Linked DNA regions of Homo sapiens. The protein of the gene in region 2 interacts with the protein of the main gene of each other region in a pairwise test. Each region holds a gene or a part of one and is shown on either strand. Other genes may lie near its edges.

Region 1 (3,752 bases), on a different chromosome or scaffold from region 2:
TTATACATTCTTCTAAATTTTTTTCAGTTTTCAACTTCTTTGCCTTTGGTTTGAATGTCCTCCCGTAGCTCACTCTAATTTGATCGTCTGAAGCCTTCTTCTCTCAGCTCGTCAAAATCATTCTCCATCCAGCTTTGTTCCGTTGCTGGTGAGGAACTGCGTTCCTTTGGAGGAGGAGAGGCGCTCTGTGTTTTAGAGTTTCCAGTTTTTCTGTTCTGTTTTTTCCCCATCTTTGTGGTTTTATCTACTTTTGGTCTTTGATGATGGTGATGTACAGATGGGTTTTCGGTGTGGATGTCCTTTCTGTTTGTTAGTTTTCCTTCTAACAGACAGGACCCTCAGCTGCAGGTCTGTTGGAATACCCTGCCGTGTGAGGTGTCAGTGTGCCCCTGCTGGGGGGTGCCTCCCAGTTAGGCTGCTCGGGGGTCAGGGGTCAGGGACCCACTTGAGGAGGCAGTCTGCCCGTTCTCAGATCTCCAGCTGCGTGCTGGGAGAACCACTGCTCTCTTCAAAGCTGTCAGACAGGGACATTTAAGTCTGCAGAGGTTACTGCTGTCTTTTTGTTTGTCTGTGCCCTGCCCCCAGAGGTGGAGCCTACAGAGGCAGGCAGGCCTCCTTGAGCTGTGGTGGGCTCCACCCAGTTCGAGCTTCCCGGCTGCTCTGTTTACCTAAGCAAGCCTGGGCAATGGCGGGCGCCCCTCCCCCAGCCTCGCTGCCGCCTTGCAGTTTGATCTCAGACTGCTGTGCTAGCAATCAGCGAGATTCCGTGGGCATAGGACCCTCCGAGCCAGGTGTGGGATATAGTCTCGTGGTGCGCCGTTTTTTAAGCCGGTCTGAAAAGCACAATATTCGGGTGGGAGTGACCCGATTTTCCAGGTGCGTCCGTCACCCCTTTCTTTGACTCGGAAAGGGAACTCCCTGACCCCTTGCGCTTCCCAGGTGAGGCAATGCCTCGCCCTGCTTCGGCTCGCGCACGGTGCGCGCACCCACTGGCCTGCGCCCACTGTCTGGCACTCCCTAGTGAGATGAACCCGGTACCTCAGATGGAAATGCAGAAATCACCCGTCTTCTGCGTCGCTCATGCTGGGAGCTGTAGACCGGAGCTGTTCCTATTCAGCCATCTTGGCTCCTCCCTATTCTGTGGTCTTAAAGCATCTATCTCAGTCTTTTTCTACTTATACACTCAAGAAACTAGCCTGGAGTATTGGCATGATTTATTATGGACAAGAATTTTCCAATTCGTTTAGAGTGACAGGGCCCAAAATCCTTAGTTGTAAAGGAGTGCGACAAGAACTATATCATCCTAAATAAATTCCAAAATCAGAAACTCAATAATAGCTTCAAACTATTCCTAAAAGTCTTCACATTTATTTTAGCAAAATATACTTAGAGAATTTACATCTTTCTTAATTGTTTACTGTAAATCAGAATCCCCCCGACACACCTGAGAGCTATGGTCCCTGCTGGTGTGCATTTCCACATCAAACATGATCTGCCCATCTTCTTGTGGCGAAGGGCTAGAAGAGAAGGAATTCAGCTATTAGTTTTAATTCTCACTTTGTCAAATGACTTAGTCTCTACTAGAAATTAGAAAATTAAAAGTTACAGCAGTATGGCTTTGAAAAAGCAAATCAGAGAATATATCATAACCCTATACAAGAAAAATTTATGTGATATTAAAAGGCTAAATGAAATTGAGCATTCTTACTCCCAAAATGTTCTGCACTTTTTCAGTAGTAATGAAATCCTTCAAAATGATAAATTTGCAAAGGAAATACTATCTACAGACACAAACTGTCACATTCTCTTATATTTACTCTTTTGTCCACTAAAGGTAAAATAATCTTCAAATTCAGGAACTTCAGAGTTCTTTTTCTCAAAGTTCCCTCATCATTAAATAATTCACCAGTAGTTCTCAAAGTGCATAAGGTAGTTCTCAAAGACGCTTTCAGAGGGTCTTTGAGGTTACAGTTCCTTTCTCAATACTAGTAGGATTTATTTGCCTTTTTCATTCTCATTCTCCCATGTGTATAGTGGAATTTTCCAAAGGCTACATGATGTGTGATAGCACAACAGTTAGAATGCAAACACAGATGAGAACCAGCTGTCTTCTATTAAGCTTGGTATTAGAGATTTGTAAATGTGTAAAACAATGCCACTATTCTTATTAACTTGGAGGGTTTATAGAAAATAGGTATTTTCACTAAAAAATGCTACTTATGTTAAAATGTATTATTTTTGAATGAATATATATTTTCTCAGTTTTAATTTCTAATATAGTAAATATCAAAATATATAAACCCACAAACAAGTTTTTTGGGGTCCCTAATGATTTTTAAGAATGTAAAGGTATGTAATGACCAAAAACTTTGAGAACCACTATTTTACTTATTTCAGAAATATTTGCTTTGAGATATTTCAGAGTGAATTATATAACTTATATATTAATATAAAACCTTTATGATTGCACAAAATACATTCTTAGAACTGTAAAAATTTACAAATAAGTTTTTAGACAAAAACAACATGATCACAAACTGCACTTGATACAAGAGATGAACAGAATGTGCTAAGTTAATTTCTTAGCTTTATTAATGATTTCTTGTATAAAAACTGAAAGTCACTGGGGATCCTTCACTACATACACAAACCCTCCCCCAAAATCTAAAATAGAAATAAAAAATATTTGGGGCTTAACTTGCTGAAAAGAATAGATATTAACTATTAAAGTTATCAAGAGTATGTATATAATGTTAATTAATGTATAGAGACGTTGGTGAGACTGACTCAGAAATAAGATCGTCAGAAATTTATCAGACAGATTAGGCCTAGGAGTCTTTTAGACTAGTATAATTGACATAGGAGATTTTTAAATGGGGACAGGAAAACAGAAAAGCTGGTTCTGTATCAAACCAACGTCATATATATTTAGGAAATTTTTGTCTTGAACTAGCACAGGAGTCAACCCGAACTGGGCACTCCTACTGGCCTCAGTTTACTATCTTTGTGCTCATAACTGTTGGGTTCACAGCTACACATCAAGTTAAGGGTCAGCCTTACATAGCCGTGACCAGGTCAAGGCAGTCAGGGTGACAAAGTCAAGAATCCTATGGAAGCATTGCTCTGCTTCTATATGCTTCTTCACACTGGTACCAACCTCTTCTCTAAACTGTTTACTCCTCCTAACAATTTGGAATGCATTAGAGCTTCACCCATGGCACATATTAGAATCGGCTGGGGAGCTTTTAAAATATTGTGACGTCTCTACCCTGCCCCTGTCAACCAAAATGAGAAGTTCTTGAGATGCAGTCCATGTGCTGCCATTTTTAAAAGCTTCTGGGTGAATCTAGTGTGCCGTCAAGGTGAAAACCCCTGTGACAGGGTGAAAGGCAAAGCAGAACACACTGGGGTTCCCAGCTAACAACCCCTGCGGCAACACAAATATTTCTATGGAATAATTTTTAAGTTGAAAATATACATAAATCAGCTCTAGGACTGATACCCAACAACCCTAAAACATTTCCCCCTACAAGAAACACTTTCCAATTACTTTTCACATATAGAGACGCATGGCAATTCAGATGATGTGAGTTTTGAAGACACTCCTCAATGGTAAAGCGTGTTAGTAGGCTATCCCAGAAGACTCGAGTTCTAGCCATTCTCTGAAAGATGACCACTAATCTAGGGCCTGGAGAGACATAAGATGAGGGGTACGAAAGTGTTCAAAAGCATTTGCCATGCCTCCTCATGGC
Region 2 (3,752 bases):
AGAAACAACAGCAGATTAAAATCCAGGCTCTTTGGGCTTTCCTTAACAAATCTATGAGACTTGTTGGGACTCTGTGGCCCTTGGTAGAGAGAGCTGTGCATGCAACTGTGCTTATTGGTGGCAGTGATTTGTTTGCAGTCCTGGGATTTCCTCCAAGCTCTTAGTGTTTGCTCTCCTAGCCTCCACCACGCCTCCTTTTTATTTTGTCTTTCAACATCTGTGTATAATAAACAGTATTTATTTAACATCCCACATCTGGTGTTGACATTTCCATGCCAATAAGTCCTTCTCCTCACTCCCGCTTTGGTGTGTACAAAAGATCCAGATTCCTGTATCCAAATTGAGAACAAGCCATGCTTGACCTCCTCCCCTCACATACCTCAGGTCTGCGTGCACACAGGTGTGCACACGCACAGACTCACACACACACAGACACACACACACACACACACAGACCAGAGAGAGAATGAAATCAAAATAAAGTGAAACAAGGACGACTAACTCTGGGTGAGCTGCTGCATTTTCTTACAGGTCCCAGGCCCCTGACCCACAGCCACATACAGGAGCCACCTGAGCTAAATGAAAGCCAGGTCCATCCAGCTCTGAATTCAGCTTTCTTAAACAAGCAGAAGAGACCTATTCAGTCCCAGCAATTTTGAGAAAGCATCGTAATGAGGCTCCCCTTCTAGGCAGTGACTGCCCTGGGATCATTGAAGCAGAATCACCAAAGAAACATTCTTGCTTAAAGCCCCCTGTATTACACATTTTACTGGAAACAGTCAGAAGCCAACTCCTCAGCTAATTAATCCAACATGAAGCAAACAAATCAGAAAAATCCTAGCCCTTAAACCAACAGTTTAGAAACTTAGCACAGACCTTGTAGCCCATCCCTGCCAATCCTTTGTGGAGCGAGGCAGAAGAATCATACATTTAATAAATGAAAGAGTGTCCTTACTGCCTTACATAGGAGCTGCCTGGTGACTTTAGGGTTGTTTGAAAGCCATCAGGACCACAGTAATCAATAGATTCGTGAGGATGTTCCTTCAACTTCTATATATTACCAGAGCAATGAGGAGTGGTAGGGATAAGCGGGCACTTTTCTGCCCTCCTGCCACACCTCAGTTGCAGGTGATCACTAAAACAGTCTCCCCCAGCGTTGTGAGTCCACTATCATTCTAGGTTGAAAATCCTTTGCTCAGAAGAAGCACTTTCTTGACGAGTCTGATTGCAACATTTTGTGCGTGCCTATTTCTTGGCACGCACAATTGGGCATTAGCCCAATATTAACTTTTTTCGCTCCTCTCTAGGCACACAAGGAAGACAACTTTTTTCTCCAGGTCCCCTGGGCTTTCCTACACCACAGTCCGGTGGGTGAAATGTGGGTCTAGAGAAACATTAATATACCCTCAAGGAAAAAGTTGAAGGAGTAGCCGGAATATTTTTGGCAGGGAGACTGAGCTTTACCAGATGGTGCCATGTTGGCATTTTCAAAAAAAAAAAAAAAAAAAAGACCTCTCTTCATTTTCCTCTTAAAGCATTGTGAGACCCAGGTCCACCCTTGTACAACTCTCACTGGGCCAGCTCTTATTCTGGGCTACTCAAGGGCAGCTCCCAGCAATTATGTGGAGCCAGGCTGTGGCTGTGATGGGCATGTTCTTCTTAGTCAGTCTCTTCATTCTCCTAAGGCAGCATTTGCTGAACAACTTATATGACACCAGGATGAAGAGCCTGGGCCTTCAAAGACAGCTGTTCTGGAGTGGTTGAGAGTGGAATTGGGGCTGTGGAGGAAGTAGCCTGGATGATCAACAGATAGTGGCAGTAGGCGTAGTCCAGTGATCAACCTGACAGGTTGATCTGAGCAAATCTCAGCAGACTTTGCTAACTATCTAACATTACAGATGAAAAGGGGTAAAGGATTAAAATAGGAACTGAGTCCCTAGAGACACTCAGTGATTTGCCCAAAATCACACAGCTTGTAAGTGGTGGGGTTAAGGTTAGAACTAGAGGCTAGTCTGAAGATTCTTTCCACTATTCTTCAGCTGCATTTAAGAATCAGGGATGGGGATAATGGGTAGGAGAAAAACTTACTGGTCAGCTCAAGTCTGTAGATAAAAGAAGTAGCTTTTTCTTGTTGAAAAAGAATGTCTGTGCTGCTTATGCCAATATTTTGCATATTGCCAAATGGTGATTGAAGATGCAGAACTCTAACTTTGCATAAGGAACAATCTGTCTGCTCTGTGTTGGTAAAGAAATACCCAGAGGCCCTTTAATTCCCCCAAGTTAGGTTAATAATAATATGGTACAGTGCATTCTCTTCCCTTCCTTCCAGCCTAACACCTGCTAGCCAGCTATTCTGAGCATGTATTTCACCTTTGGAGAGTGTACCTCATAACAGACAGTAAGGGATGAAGATGGAGTGAAGAGCAGCTAGATTAATCACAGGCTTCAAAAAACAAACCTAAGCCAAATGTCCTCAAATCCCTGTCAGGACAGGCTAAAGCTTCTTGCCCCTAAAACAGATCCATCACACTGAGGTCTGAGATAGCTTTACCTTTTCTAAATAGCTTTCTTTTCTGATCTCAGGGACTGCCACAGAGGCAAGAAAACAAGGAAAACTGTGAAAGAGGGATGTTAGGGCTCATTTGCTGCCTGAATGGAGGATTTAACTGGACTGAAGACAGAATTCCTGGGCAGGGAAGAAAAATGGGTTGTGTCCTCTACATATTTTGTCAGTGTGGTCTTCTTACACTTCTCACTGCCTGGACTTAACCACATATCTGTCTCATTTCACTTCTGATTCCTATTCCACTCCATTGGCTTCCTTGTTCCATTCCAGTGTTCTGGTTCTTATAGTTAAGGCCAGCCTTATGTGTGGGTGGAGTAAGAGCCCATTTGAGTGGTGCTGGAAAGATGCCCTTGCCCCCAAATATCTCCCATTCCTCGTGCCACTGTGCCTATTAGATTGGTGCAAAAGTAACTGTGGTTTTAGCCATTGAAAGTAATGGCAAAGTAATAAAGTAATAAAATCCACTATTAGTACTTCATTCCTCTGAGTGAAGTATTGCACTCAAATTTTTAAACAGACAAATATTCATCACTAATATCTAAGTGTGAAATCATGGGTCAGATTGATTTCTTCTTTGTCATAAGGTACCTGAAGCACCACGAGATTCCTAGATGTCTAGACAGGAGACAAAGGGACAGAAATGGGAAGAGAAAGGGGAAGGGCTATGAGGGTATAGAATGAACAGAATATGAAAATAGAGCAGAAAAGGAAAGCTAGAAGCACCAAAAATTAACTCTCTCTATTTTCCAATTGGGCAGGGGTGTACTCCTCATCATATTCTGTCCTTGCTCTATCCTCCCTGGAATAAAGCTGAGTTGGAGGCAGCTGAGATGAGCTACTTGTAGCCCACTCACACCTCTCTTCAGGCCAGTCATCCTGTCTCTGCTTTAGCTTGCTCCTGGAGAGGACAAAGCCATTTATTCTTTCATCTCCAGAAAGACCTTCAACCCCTGAGCCAGGAAGCTTAGTAGAGAGCAAAGTACTTGTGATGCCAAAGGCATGAGCTCAGTCTTCATACGGGCCAGTGAAGCTTGCATAGCCATTACCCAAGCAATGTGCTCCACAGGGACCCAGGCGAGACAGTGTGTCTGGATTTGCTCATACCCATCTCCAAACAGTCCAAAGTGGGCCACCAGCATCATCTTCCTAGACGAAGAACAGTCTGTTCCAAAAGGACACCTTTGAT
Region 3 (3,752 bases), on a different chromosome or scaffold from region 2:
AGGTTTATTTATTTAAAGCAAATCTGGTAGGAGCTTCCTCTGGTAGCGTATGGAGGATGGAGTGCAGTGGGAGGAAAGTGCAGGCCACAAAAGACAGGGAAACTTATGGACGAGAACAATGGAATTATCTCATTTTTGCAGTCACTATAATTTTAGTAAGCAGAATAATCACCCTGAGCTGCTGACTGTCCTTAAACCAACACAGCACTAATAACACCATGCAATTAGGGGGAAAGGAGCAGCCTCTTCATCCGTCATGTTCGCTGGAAGCAAAGGCAGGTGCACAGCTTTCCACACACACGAGGCATCTCTCCTGAAAGAGGGCTGGCCTAGGCTCCATACGCCACTTGTTGCAGAGTCTATTTCATATTAACCAGAAAAAAGCAAACCGAAGGCCCAGGAAGGAAAAGTGGATTTGCAACTTATGCCATCAACAGTCTCCCAGTAAGCTGCTAACGAAATGATCACACAAATTTTCAAATGAACGCATGATTGTTCTCTTTGGCCTCTCACGTTGCCTCATGTCCTGGCCTACACGAAGCACATCCCTAATACAAAGGCAAGCCAGGGTCTGTCTCGGAGCCTGGAGCTCAATGGAGGAGAAAGGCCCAGGCCAGTCTGCCCCACACTCTGGCAGAGGCTACATGGTGCCTTCTGAGATGTACAGACCACACCATTCCTGAAGCCGCTCATCTGACCAGACAGTATTGCCAAGTACTCTGATGTTCACTAGCCCTCCTTCCCTCTCTGCGGTTCAAGATGCCATGCGGCCGGCTAGCCATGGCCTGCCCCTGAGAGAACGGCACCACAGCCTCTGTTTTGGCCAGCTGTCTTTCTCCGCTGAATCTACAGTATTCAGATTCTGGGCCTGCTTCAATTTACTTGACTAAAGTGTTGTTCAGCTATCTGACGATATGGAACACAAATGCAACTTGAAGGTGTGGTGTCTCTTCTCTGATGCCACTCTTAACATCAAATGTGGGACACCAAGTCACCACCACCGGGGTGTCCAACGATTCAATTCCATTCTATCTACCTAGACTTAGTGTGGAGCCCACAAGACTGTTCCCACAGATGCAAGCAGAGAATGGGGTGTCCAGGTTACCCGTATTTCTGCCAGTGCCTCTACCTACTCAGGGGATCCCACACACCTGCCTCAGGTTCAGTAATTTACTACAATTCACAGAACTCAGAAAAACTCTTTACTTACATTTATCAGTTTACCAGAAACAATTCCAGGGCAGACAAATGGAAATGACATACAGCCCAGATCCCCACCTACCCCACACGTCCCAACCCTAACCCCAACCACACTCTCTGCAACCAGACTCCCACTTACCCCACATGTCCCAACCCTAACCCCAACCATGCTACCCGCACCTCATGGCTCCCCCATCTCCATCTCCAGTCCCCTCCCCTCCTAGGAGGGGCTGCCCTGGGAATTTCTACCTCAAGTAACTATCCTGGGGCCACCCTTGAGCCACTGTATTAGCAGTGTATTCTGAAGGGGCTCCTTACAACTTACACCAAAAATGGTTAACCAAGGAGCACTTTTGGAGTACACTGCTAATAGGGTGACTTTATGAATAACGCACACACTGGTCAGGTTGTTCTGCCTATGGAGTCACCATCTTTTTACTGTTTTACTTTCTTTAATAAACATGCTTAAGACACTTATTGGCACAGCGGTTCATGCCTGTAATCCCAGCACTTTGGGAGGCCGAGGCGGGCAGATCATCTGAGGTCAGGAGTCAGAGACCAGCCTGACCAACATGGTGAAACCCCGTCTCTACTAAAAATACAAAATTAGCTGGGCGTGGTGGGCGCCTGTAATCCCAGCTACTCGGGAAGCTGAGGCAGAAGAATCCCTTGAACCTGAGAGGGGGAGGTTGCAGTGAGCCGAGATCATGCCACTGCCCCCCAGCCTGGGCAACAATAGCGAAACTCTGTGTCTCAAACAAAAAAAAAAGACACTGCTCAGGAAGCCCCAGGGGTTTAGGTGCTCTGCACCAGGAAGTAGGTAGGGTCAAGACCAAACACATACTGTAATCTATCACACAAGGGGCAGGCTGAAGACAACAGGGAGAGGAAGATGAAGGAGAGACAAGTGTATCTCTGTCATCCTCTGCGCTACTGCAACAGAATCCCACAGACTTAGTGATTTACGAACAGAAACTGATCTCTGTTCTGGAGGCTGGGAAGTCCAAGATCCACGCACCAACATCTGGTGTCGGCTGAGGGCCTTCCTGCCTCATCCCTTCAATGAGGCTACAGAGGGACCCACCTCCCTCCATCCAGCCCCTTAGAGCACTAATCCCATTCACTAGAGAGGAGCCCCTATGGCCGAGCCACCTCTTAAAGGCCCACCTTTTACTACCATCCCACTGGCAACATGGAGGAACACATTCGAACCAAAGCAGTGCTTTTTAAACATCACCCCAGAAAGGACCTAAAAATCCAGGAAACAAGGAAAAAAAACTCACTCCAGATTGTCCATGGCTAATGACTTTGGGCCCAAAAGCTGTATTCCCAGGAATGATTTACTAAGGGACAGGAGTTTTATTATTAACCCACAGCAACCGCGTAGGAAAGGAAGGCACTTCCTGGAGAATGGAGCGTGCTGTGTATCTACTCACGTGTTACAGTTCTCCACTCGGATCGTTCACCTTTTCAAAGAAAGATGGGCTTACAGTAAGGTTGCTTAATAACCTTAGAAAACTTGCTCATAATCACAAGCAGTTTACACTTCAAATCACTGTAGTATAATTAGGCCCCAGACGGAAAGGTGCTGCTGTTGCTGCTGCAAGAAAAGCCCTCCTTCCTAATCTCATTTCGCGTCCCTCTCATGTTCCTCCCCCTCCTCACTCACTTATAATTTACATTGCTAACAAGACACACAGCCAGTAAATCTTACCTCCCTCCTATATCAAGGTAGATGAGATTTTGAAAAGCCTAGACTATAAATATTTATATCACAGTACAAAAAGAAAACTGATAGGTCTGCCTCAGAGACAAAATACAGTCCAACAAGAGTTCTTAATCCATTTCTTATTCTCACTTTGTGTAAAAAAAAAAAAAAAAAATCATCTGACATCCAGCTTTTCTAGGTGCCCAAAGCAGTTCTCCCTCCAGTGACAGACTCCAGGGAATCCCTTCGATTCACTGCCCTCTGTATGTCCCAGGGCAACTCCCTGGGTCCCATTCCTCAACATGGATTCATGGGCCACAGCCACGAGCCCCACGTGGAGTAAACACAGGGCCAAGTTCTCAAGGCCACCCTATGCCCTAACCTGGGGTGACAACCTCAACTCTGGCTATGAAGGGAGAATCACCTGTGGTGTTTTTTCATTGTTCTCCAAAAGCCTAGCCTCAGCCCACTCTGAAAGTGACTATTTGGGATGCTGGGGTGGAATCCAGGCAAATAGATTGAAAAAGCTCTGGGATAAATGTCAGAACAGAGGGAGGCAGCATCCCAGAAAAAAAACCTGAAGCAGAGGAGCTGTGAACCCCCGAGGGAACTAGCACCCCAAAACCATACAAAGGGCTTCTTCCCCAGGGGAGGTGGGCTCTAAGAAATTGCTGTTTTACCTTTAAAGCTTCTCAGGTTAGTGGGGAGAGAACAAAAGAGACCCGCCTGACAAAAGATTTCAAGTATCAAGTCAGCTGGGTAGGTAAATCAGGTCCCTGGCTTCCAACGGGGCTCGTTTCCCTCCACCTTCCTGTTGCCTCCAGGACCTCTGGCCTCCTCTCCT

The links.
Region 1: the proteins of TNMD (region 2) and BNIP3L interact in binary tests that used the Homo sapiens proteins (3 or more experiments, as listed by UniProt).
Region 3: the proteins of TNMD (region 2) and BNIP3 interact in binary tests that used the Homo sapiens proteins (3 or more experiments, as listed by UniProt).

The regions. Positions count from the first base shown.
Region 1 is NC_000008.11:26,392,995-26,396,746, reverse strand, and holds part of BNIP3L (BCL2/adenovirus E1B 19 kDa protein-interacting protein 3-like), read right to left. Parts: intron 1,518-3,752; coding exon 1,445-1,517; intron 1-1,444.
Region 2 is NC_000023.11:100,587,874-100,591,625, forward strand, and holds part of TNMD (tenomodulin), read left to right. Parts: intron 1-3,752. UniProt on the Homo sapiens protein: May be an angiogenesis inhibitor.
Region 3 is NC_000010.11:131,975,317-131,979,068, forward strand, and holds part of BNIP3 (BCL2/adenovirus E1B 19 kDa protein-interacting protein 3), read right to left. Parts: intron 1-3,752. UniProt on the Homo sapiens protein: Apoptosis-inducing protein that can overcome BCL2 suppression. May play a role in repartitioning calcium between the two major intracellular calcium stores in association with BCL2.